Linked DNA regions of Homo sapiens: region 1 is linked to region 2. Evidence: fine-mapped QTL for protein levels in blood plasma. Region 2 holds a variant in brackets. A gene starts in the other region. All regions are shown on their reverse strands. Region 1 holds the start of COL3A1 (collagen type III alpha 1 chain). Region 2 overlaps MARCHF10 (membrane associated ring-CH-type finger 10).

What was found. PIP is the posterior inclusion probability: the model's chance that the variant is causal. The UK Biobank Pharma Proteomics Project read protein levels with antibody pairs (Olink). The fine-mapping took linkage between variants from a reference panel, not from the people measured, so its PIPs are less certain.
Region 1: COL3A1 starts here. The variant in region 2 is fine-mapped to the plasma level of the COL3A1 protein (UK Biobank, PIP above 0.99).

The regions. Positions count from the first base shown.
Region 1 is chr2:188,970,136-188,975,499 of GRCh38, reverse strand. It overlaps COL3A1 (collagen type III alpha 1 chain), which reads right to left and starts at 1,127. Exons shown (of 51, transcript NM_000090.4): 1 at 932-1,127. The coding sequence starts at 1,010. LOC105373791 (a long non-coding RNA gene) reads left to right here. Exons shown (of 3, transcript XR_007087614.1): 2 at 5,021-5,153.
Region 2 is chr17:62,696,093-62,701,443 of GRCh38, reverse strand. It overlaps MARCHF10 (membrane associated ring-CH-type finger 10), which reads left to right. Exons shown (of 11, transcript NM_152598.4): 11 at 1-130. Among named protein-coding and RNA genes, the nearest start is that of MARCHF10-AS1, 7.4 kb to the left of the region's middle. The variant A/T (reference allele first, on the strand shown) is at 485.

The DNA.
Region 1 (5,364 bases), not on the chromosome of region 2:
TTTCTATGGAAGTTTGTATTCCAATTTGTTCAGCATTTTCATGACTATGGTAAATAAAAGAATATTTTCACATAAATAATGAGACAAATGTGTTTTTAGGGGAAATTAGAATATGAAAAACATTACATGCAATTATTAGAAAATATAGCAAAACAGCTTTCTGAAGTCAAACAGTACTAGTATCTTTACCTTGTTTGCAGCAAAGTCAAACCTCCTGTTGAAACATTTTAAAAAATATTTTCTTCATTAATGCGAATGTGGTTAAAACGTAGAATATGTGGAAAATATTAGTCCCTTAATATCAAGCTACTAGAAAAGATGAATTAATCAATCATTCTTGAAACAAAATAAAAACAGGAATAATAAAATATTTTAGCAGTTTGATCCCTTTGAAGAATGTTTATAGGTATCTTGTAGCCATTTTACAGAAATATATTCAATGATTCTGATAATGCGTAGAATCTTCCTTTAGACTGTTCTTAATCCATGATATTTGAAAGGCATTCTTATTCAGAAAACAATGCTCAATATTCTAACCTTACAAAGAATCCAGCAGACAAAGAGGAACATAAAATTATTGCAAGAGACCAATAACTTCCAGACTGCCTGGGGAAGTATTCCAAGATGTTAACAATCCAGGAGGGAAAAATTTTAAAGCCATTTTTAAAAGTTTCCAGTGCCTTTAACATGAAAACAAGTTAGTACAAGAACATCTTATCTTAACCACAGAACTCTTAAAAACACACATAACGCGATTATTTTTCAAGTAATGTAAAAAGCACAGCCATGGTCAGTTCAACGTTTCACAATCTGGAGCTTATAGAGGAAATTATCTTGAATCAGGCAACTGATTTTCCCCTTTACACCCCTCTTTGTGAGGAGAAGAAAGACAAAAATCCCATAAAGTTTCTTGAAATCAGTACCTACTCACCTTCCTGTTGTGCCAAAATAATAGTGGGATGAAGCAGAGCGAGAAGTAGCCAGCTCCCCTTTTGCACAAAGCTCATCATGTCTAAATATCAGACATGAGACTCTTTGTGCAAAAAGGAGAAAAGAAAAGCAGTTCAAAGTAGCACCATCAAGTTGTTCCCTGCCCTTCAGCACCGGGCCCGTCATAAAACTCAGCCACTGAGATTCCTTTGCTTTGGCCTTAAATAGGAAAAAGTTTGGCTTCCCTCACTTTCCAGCCCCTTTCTGAAATATGAGAGCCGCACCCATCCCCTCAGCAGTAAAAGAAATGATAAATATTTCTTTTTCCCTTATAGAAGACACAACCCACAGTAAGAAAAAGAGCACATCTGGAGTTTGTATGCATCTGCTTATGTAAAAGTTTTTTTACATATTTCACTCTTACATATATGTTTGTATAACTTAGGAACGTATAGAAATGCTCTGCCTTGTTTTAATACATACAATGTAAATGCATACATTTTTATTTCCCCTTATGAAGTTAACAACTGCATAATTTTGAAAAACTGCTTGATGCCCATTTATCTAGTATGTCTAATTTACAGAACTGATCTTCCTAGAAGATTTTTATGTTGGGATTTTGCCAGAAGTAATCCTAACTCAATTTAAATAGGAGACTGTAAGAGACTCACGGAAAGAAATGCCACCGTATGCCCCTTCGACTCATCCACCCACCCTGGGTCCTAGAAGTTAAGTTTCAGGCAAATATCAAAAGACAAAGTATTTCAGCAATGTTTGAATGGCTTCCTAAAAGTTAGATACTTATCTATAGCTGTTTCCATTTCTCACAAATTTCTTTAGCAAGCCAGAGTGCTTTCTTGTGAGATTTCCAATTTTTATGCTGCCTGGGAAAGACAGAGCAGATTTTTCTAGAGAAAAATTCAGCCTTTTCATGACATAACTTTTTAGGAAACTGGAAGAGAAAGAGTTTATCACATAGAATAGCAAAAGAGTACCAGAGAAAGTGGTCATTTTTTCTGCATTACTCTAAAGATTAGTATAAATATTTCTAATTTAGACTTTTATGTGTATACTTTCCAGATCCTCATCCACAAAACTTTCCAATGTATTTCTGGATCTATCTAAGCAGTAATTTTTGTGTCATATTTGAAAGAGGGGCAAATACCATTTATAGGTCTTTGATAAATCTCTGCAGGAAAAATATGCTTGTCCACAGTATAAGGCTATATCTGGCAATGGAGATATCTCTTTACACCCTAATCATCAGTTCATAGTTAGTTCATCTATCTCTATAATCTACGGTGGACATTTCAATTCTAATCAAGGTCACTTGAACTAATTTTCTTCACCTTCACCTAAACATGTCCGTCTCTATGCCTGTGCACATAAAATTCTCCCCATTTCACACCAATTAATGGAAGTCACTTCCTTATGCCTCAATGCAAAACTTTCCTCCTTAAGTAAATTACCTCCTTTAAACTAATTTTCATCTTTCTCTTTCTTCTAATTTGTGTTACTAAATTTTCACTCAACTCATGTCATATGTATATTCCCAGGTGTACATGAATCCTGTAAGCATGGACAGTGGCAAACTTGCTTTCTTGTTTCTTGCATCTTTTTTTTTTTTTTTTTTGCGACGGGGTCGCCCTCTCTCGCCCAGGCTAGACTGCAGTGGCGCAATCTCGGCTCACGGCAAGCTCCGCCTCCCGGGTTCACGCCATTCTCCTGCCTCAGCCTCCCGAGTAGCTGGGACTACAGGCGCCCGCCACTACGCCTGGTTAATTTTTTGTATTTTTAGTAGAGACGGGGTTTCACCGTGTTAGTCAGGATGGTCTTGATGTCCTGACCTCGTGATCCGCCCGCCTCGGCCTCCCAAGCTTTCTTATATCTTCAGTCACAAGGACACAAACCAAGACATCTCAATGTAGATGACATCATTTGATGACAGGAAAGGAAAACTAGAACGAGACCAACCTCTTGTGTATCTTTATTTTAGATTGGAGAGTCACTGCTTGGGGGCGTGGGAGAAAAGTAACTGTTGAGAATGGTCATGAATATAAGCTTTTCTACTGGATCACAGTAGAGATGCTGGGGAAAGGCTGTTATATGCATCTTTCTGTCTTTCAGACATCTTTGTCCTGTACACAAAAAATATTTCCTGTGTTCAAACCAATTCAGAAACATAGTTTTTCTCATGATGTCTTTGTATCTACGTAGAATTCATATATCTATATTAGATTTCTCTCATTGTTTTAGGTGGTCTATAAAAGCTGAAATTTATTGAATTTCTTCATTAGATTTATTTTCCACTGTGAAAAATTAGAAATGTTATTTTTAAAATAATGCTTGTTATGCTTTATTTTAGGCATTATAAATAAAATTACTATTGTTCTAAAATTCTTAATTTGCTTAGCTATTCAAATAAAAGCCTTATACTCATGAGAAAAATTCATGATTGATGCACTCACTTAAGAAACATTAGCTGATGTTTTGCATATGGAAGGATTGTTGTATTTTAAGGTCTTCAGGAGAGACCTAGAGAATTCATTCTCCAGATATTCTGATTTACGATTCTTCACTACCTCGAATATGGAGGTTTTGCACTAGGATCCTTTGCATTCTGTGTCCCAGATCCTATTTTTCTACCTCCTGTCAAAGCATTTCCTAATACGGGGTCAAAGCATTTCTTAATACAGGGTCTGAACTAGGTGAAATGCATACACTTCTGAATCCTATTATGCCATCCAGGAACTGCTGTCCTCATTGTTATCTAGCCACACATTTCTTCCCATACTTCCCTGACTTCACTGATGTTAACCAGGACACATAAACATGTCATTTTGCTTTTTGGATTGCATTTGGAGCTTTAACACAAATCTAAATACCTGCACCAACTAAAGCACTGATTAATCTGGATCTCCTTTAACAAAGAGAGTGCCTGGAAAGATGAGGCAAAGCAAGGGTGTGGCAGATTATCAACCAAAAATTCAAATCTTTTCCAATTCAGTGGAAAGTGGAGCTTGAGAGAGATGCACAAGCACAGCTGTGATGAACTCAGTAGGCCAGTGAATGCCAGCAGCGCTTTCTACAACAGCACTAAGAAAATCAATTATCTCCACCATGGAAAACACATGGAACAGAAATGTTTCAATGTTTCTCTCTTTCCTCTCCCCTCCCCTTTGTTGTGCGGCTTTATGTGTGATTTTCTTTTTGAAGCCAGCAAGATGCTTTATTTTTAGGGACATTTTCTAGATTTCAAATCACTGTAAAGCCATTTAAAAACTACTTGTGATAATAGAACTACCAATACAACTGTAAAATACAATGCAGGTCTTCTTTATTATTCCCAGAGAGGTTGATCAGTTCACTCAGTTGATAAAGGTAAAACCACATTTGAAGAGTTGTGTTTCCTTTAAAAGAATTTGAACAAATACTAGTATGTGCATAGTAGAGCCAAAAATATGGTTGAAAAAGTCATGTTGTACTTGCAGGACTTAAACATATTTAACCATAGATATGTCCAGGATTGAGGCAAATTACACTGGCAGTGGGACATGATAGTCCAGTTTTTGAGTGATTATATGACCAAGTCTTCAAGACCCTTTTCTTTAATTTCCCCTTAGTCCCCAAGGTAGAGTTCATTGACCCCTTGTTTTTTTCTTATAGAACCATTTTAATAACCATTTCTTTTTAGCCTGGAAATTTCACTTTTGTACAAGATTTATATTTTCTTGACATTTAGTAAAATAAAGTTTTAGTAAAATTTAGTTAGGAAACACGAAGTATCTCAATTCCTATCTATTCTTTGTTATTAAACTTAAGGCTCTAAATTTTTATCTTTGTATTTTGCAACTGAAAAGTATCCCAAGAATGAACAGAAAGTTTAAAGAGGTTACATGACTCTCAAAATTACTCATTGGAATTGTAAATAACTAAAAATTTTCACTTTTGTACAAAATCCATATTTTCTTGACATTTAGTAAAGTAAAGTTCCAGTAAAATTTAGTTAGAAAAAACTGAGTATCTTGATTCCTACCTATTCTTTGCTATTAAAGCTAAGGCTCTGAATTTTTGTCTTTGTGTTTTGCAGCTGGGAAGTATCCCAAGATTGAACAGAAAGTTCAAAGAGGTTCCATGACCCTCAAAATAATTCATTGCAACTGGAACTGACTAGCACACTTTACAAATATTTTCACCATGCTTTCCACTAATCACTGATTGTGGTAAAGATATTTTTACGCAATTTAGAAGTGTGGTAAATACAAATCTGACACTTAATTTTGTATGTTTTCTAATGAGGCATTGTGAAAGGATGAAAAAAATGATAATGTTATGGAGTTAATGGCCAATTTACAAAAATTACCATTCTGATTTTTGTCTTGTCATTAATCTTTGAGTAATTTTCAGTATTGTATTTAAGTAAAAGTCCACTAC
Region 2 (5,351 bases):
CCCTTAGCCCAGAAGCCCTGCCAGGTCCAGTGGCCTGGGGTCCCACTGCTGAGGGCACCTGCCAGGCCTCACTCCACCCTGAATGGACTCGAGCCATGTATTCATTCAGTAAACTGACATTATTCTCCCAGCTTCGTTCATGTTTATTTCACTTGCCTTGGTCAGAGGCCAAGGGTCTCAAGCTGGAGGGAGAGGGAAGCACATGTCACAGCCCACATCTCACCTCTACTTCTCCCTTGCTCCCACCATCACTGGGGATGCTACATCCTGGGCCCCCATGGGCTGGGGCAGGCTGGATGGTGGCTGCCCCTGTAGGTACCCACTTAGGACCCAACTGGGGTGTGGACTCCACACTTTTTTTCCTGATTGCATCTTAGGGCCCAAAGACCAAGTCAGGACTTGGGGTGGAAGGTCAGAGGGTTAGTGAGAAAATTGTGTGTGCGAGTGTGTTTGAGTACGTGTGTGTGTGTGTGTGTTTTTGTTT[A/T]AAAAAAATTGTTTTTTAAGCCAAAAAACAATAAAAGAGCTGGACATGGTGGCTCACACCTGTAATCCCAGCACTTTGGGAAGCCGAGGAGGATGGATCACTTGAGGTCAGGAATTGGAGGCCAGCCTGGCCAACGTGGCAAAACCCTGTCTCTACTAAAAATACCAAAAAAAAAAAAAAAATTAGCTGGGCGTGGTGGTGGACATCTGTAGTCCCAGCTACTTGGGAGGCTGAGGCATGAGATTCACTTGAACCCCTGCAGTAAGCTGAGATCGCACCACTGCACTCCAGCCTGGGCAACAAAGCAAGACTCCACCTCAAAAATAAATAAATAAAAATAAAAGGGCCAGTTATGGTGGCTCATGCCTATAAGCTCAGCACTTTGGGAGGCCAAGGCAGGTAGACCGCTTGAGCCCAGAAGTTTGAAATCAGCCTGGGCCATAGCGAGACCCTGTCTCTACAAAAAAAATTTAAAAATTTGCCATGTGTAGTGGCATACCCTCGTGGGCCCAGCTACTCGGGAGGCTGAGGTAGGAGGATCGCACGAGCCTAGGGGGTCAAGGTTGCAGTGAGCCATGATCGCACCACTGTACTGCAGCCTTGTAGACAAGGCTACAAGACCCTGTCACAAATAATAATAATAATAATAAAAGATGGAGGGGACAAACTACGGTACATGCAAAAATGTTATGCTAAGTGAGAAAAGCCAGACACCAAACACTACATAGTATATGATTCATTTTACACAATTTCTAGAAAAGGCAAAACTAGAGAGACAGCAAGCAGATCAGTAGTTGCTGGGGGCTGGGAAAGGAGCAGGGATTGACTGCAAATAGGGTCCAGGGGACTATTGGGGGTGAGTGAGGTGTTATAAAGCTGCTTTGTGGCAATATTTACACAACTGGATAAATTTGCTAAAGCTCATTGCCTCTATAGATTTTCTAAAAAATGGAGGGAGGGACAGAGAAAGGGCAGAGAGAGGAGAACGAGAGAGAAAGATGAAATGAGGAGGCGGCACTTCTCCCCCCTGCCTTTAAGACTTCTCAGACTAGGAGAGGCCCCTGCTTCCCCGACTCACCCTCTCCTAGGGGTCTCAAAGGATGAGATTTTTGCGGCAAAGGGGTGCCCTGAGCTGAATTAAGGAGTCAATAGGGTTTTAGGAAGGCCAGGCTTGACTCACCTTAAAATCTGGTCCCACTCTTCCGATATGTTCCAGTTAAAGTGATGCAACTCTTGAAAACCAACCAGTAGGTTCGCTGGGCACAGTGGCTCACGCCTGTAATCCCAGCACTGGGAGGCAGAGGTGGGTGGATCACCTGAGGTCGGGAGTTCTAGACCAGCCTGACCAACATGGCGAAAACCCAACTCTACTAAACACAAAAAGAATTAGCCAGGCATAGTGGCACATGCCTGTAAACCCAGCTACTTGGGAGGCCGAGGCAAGAGAATTGCTTGAACCCAGGAGGCGGAGGTTGCAGTGAGCCGAGATTGCGCCATCGCACTCCAGCTTGGGCAACACAGCGAAACTCCATCTCAAAAAAAAAAAAAGAAAGAAAACCAGTAGTAGTTTCAACCAGGCAGCCTAGACCCAAGATCAAAGTTAAGAGCCATTCGAGTCGAAAATATCTCCATGATTTAAATAAAATTCCTAAAACCTCAAGTTCCTCCACTCACAAAAATGGCCTCAAACTCTATGAGAAAATGAGCCTTTTGAACTAAACTTTAAGGTTGACTAAAGATTTGTCCAGGATCCAGTACTGAGGAATGTATAAGAAGGGACAGTGCACGTCTAAAAATAAGTTTTTGTAGAGAGCGGAATGGAATTTGAGGTGGCCGTGTAAACATCCTGACAGCTTGAATCCACAGTAGGATGTGACAGTGTTTGAGGCAGCTGAGGAGACCATCACAGGTTTACATCAGAAAATCAGGTTTTTGAAAAACTGTACTCTTTTTTTTTTTTTTTTTTTTTTTTGAGATGGAGTCTCGCTCTGTCATCAGGCTGGAGTGCAGTGGCATGATCTCAGCTCACTGCAACCTCTGTCTCCTGGGTTCAAGCGATTCTCATGCCTCAGCCACCCGAGTAGCTGGGATTACAGGCATTCGCCACCATACCCAGCTAATTTTTGTGTTTTTAGTAGAGACAGGGTTTCACCATGTTGGCCAGGATGGTCTCGATCTCCTGACCTCATGATCCGCCCACCTCAGCCTCCCAAAGTGCTGGGATTACAGGCGTAAACCACGGCGCCCGGCCAAAACTGTTTCAGGGATTTACCCAACCAGGAATGCTTCCCATGAGGTCCAGGGTGGGGTAGACATTGAGGAGCTGGGGACTACCCACACTATCAATTTGATTTCCTGGCAGGAGTCTGCCTGCCATATGGGGCTTTTCATGGCTTGAGATTCCAAGAGGACAGCCTCATTTATTAAAAGGCAGTGATGAGGCCAGGTGCGGTGGCTCACGCCTATAGTCCTAGCACTTTGGGAGGCCGAGGTGGGCGGATCACTTGAGGTCAGGAGTTCATGACCAGCCTGGCCAACATGGTCAAACCTGGTCTCTACTAAAAATAAAAAAATAATTAGCCAAGCCTGGTGGAGGGTGCCTGTAGTCTCAGCTACTCAGGAGGCTGACGCAGGAGAATCGCTGAAGCCCGGGAGGCAGTGAGCTGAGATCGCGCCACTGCACTCCAGCCTGGGTGACAGAGCAAGACTCCGTCTCAGAAAAATAAAAAATAAAAATAAATAATGCTAAAATATAAAATAAAGCATCCCCAATGGTATAAATGTCTAATACGTCAACCGAGCCCCACTTTATTTCTATGCATTGTACCCCACAGCCCAGGAGACCCAGGTGTCCCTCCGCCACTGCTTTGGGAAGGGAGGCCGTGGAGGCTCAGAAGGAAAGAGGTCATTCTTAGCCCTCAAGTCTCAAAATAGCCCTAAAACTCTCCAGAGATGAGAGGTTGGGACAAAGTTCTTTAGTCCCCAGGCCTGACTACAAGATCTCGAGGGGCTCTCTGTAGCCCTGTTGCCCACCCCACAACACGTTTTCCAGTGCAGGGAGGAGAGGTGGCATGGCAAGTTCTTCACCTTTGTGCCTTAGCTTTCTCATCTGTAAGAGGGGGACAGTAGCACCTACCTTATGTTGTATTGGGAAGATTAAGTGAGTTAATACGTGTTAAGCAGTTAGAACAGGGCGTGTACATAGTAAATAATACCTATTTTGTTATTATCATTGTCATGGAGGAATAGTGGGTCAGAGGCAGTGTTCTGAGCCCCCTGCAGCCCCAGTATGAGGAAAGACACCATCCAAGGTTCCCCAAGTCCCTGAGGGAGATGCAGAAGGGCAGGACACCCCTGCATAAGCCAGCGGGGACATAAATGACCGGGAACCAGATGTCCCTCCCCCAGCTGTGAAACCTGGACGCTCCATAGGACCTTAGAGGCACCTGGAAATATAGGCGAAAATCCCAACTGCACTAGAAAACCTTAACTGACCAGGATTTCCCTGAAATGGCTATAACTAAAGCTCTGCCATCAGCCGATGCAAGGAGACAGTTAAGGTTCTGCACTCCTCACTGTGTGGCCTTGAACCTCAGCGCCCCCAGCGTGTCCACCTCCAGCAGGAAAGGCCTGCCCACCGCTCCTCCTCCTCCCCTTTCTCCAGCGCTGGCATCCCGCCTGCTTGTCTGGCCAAGGAAGGATTGAAATCTGTCCCTCAAATGGTGCTGGTTCTGGTGGGAGTGAAGCCTGCAGGCTTTCCCCGGGGCCTCTTGGCAGTCCCAGCCCCGAAGATAAAGAAAATCAGGCCTGTCCGGAACATCTCGGTACTTTCATCTGGTGCTGGTCTTTCACAGCCCCCTTCATTTCCCTGCTGTCCTTTGCCCGCCCTCCCTCCCTCCAGCCTGCCTTCCTCCGGGTCCTCCCTCAAGTCGCAATTCTTTGCCTTGTGCCTGCAATGGACTCAAGCCCTGGTGCTCGAGGCGGCTTGGCCGGGCTCAGGTGGCTCCGTTCCAGGAGAGCCATGTGGTGTGGCTGGCGGCTCCTCACCCCTGCGGCCTCACAGGGCTGCCCACTGGGCCAGGCCAGCTCTGCCAGCACACCTTCGAGGAGGCCATCTCTGGCGCGACAAGAAGCGGTTGAGAGAATGCTGTTCTCTGGAGAGCAGCCGCATTCTCCCATTCATTCACGGATCCAGGTGGCCAGAGCGGGGCGGGTTAACCCTGCAAGTGAAGGCTGGGCCTAGCGCCTGGCATACAGTGCTGATTGCCCAGGCCTGCCAGGATAGGCTTGGGGGCATCTGCCACCCAGCAAAGAGCCTGGTATGTAGAGGAGGTACTTGATGTATTGAAATGAAATGAGCAGAAAGGAAGGAGACTGCCACCAGGGCTATCCTGAGCCAGAGGGTGAGTGGCCGGCATCCAGAGCCTGCCTCCTGCCCCTTCAGAGAGATGCAGGAGCCTCCCTTAGTCATCTCTGGGCAGGCTTAGAACGAGGTCTAGGGGTAGCCTCCAGGCACCCGTGACGCTGTCTGAAATGCTTGCAGGTGGGTGCAGGGCCCTGGGGAGACTCGTCACCTGAGCAAGGCAGAGAGACGTGAGGAGAGCAGGCACCAGCCACTGACGAGGGCAGCTCTGGCCACTGGGGTCCTCCGTCCCTCCGCTGCTCCCTCCCACCCCTCAAGCTAGTGATCCGGACCTCACTCCTTGACCTTTCTTCTCTCCCGAGGTTAGAGTCACTAGGGTCTTGGGGGGCCTCTCCCCCAATGTTTCTTGTGGTGTTGTGTCTGGAGTTGGTTCCTTCCAGTGGGTTCGTGGTCTCACTGACCTCAAGAATGAAGCCTCGGACCTTCACGGTGAGTGTTACAGCT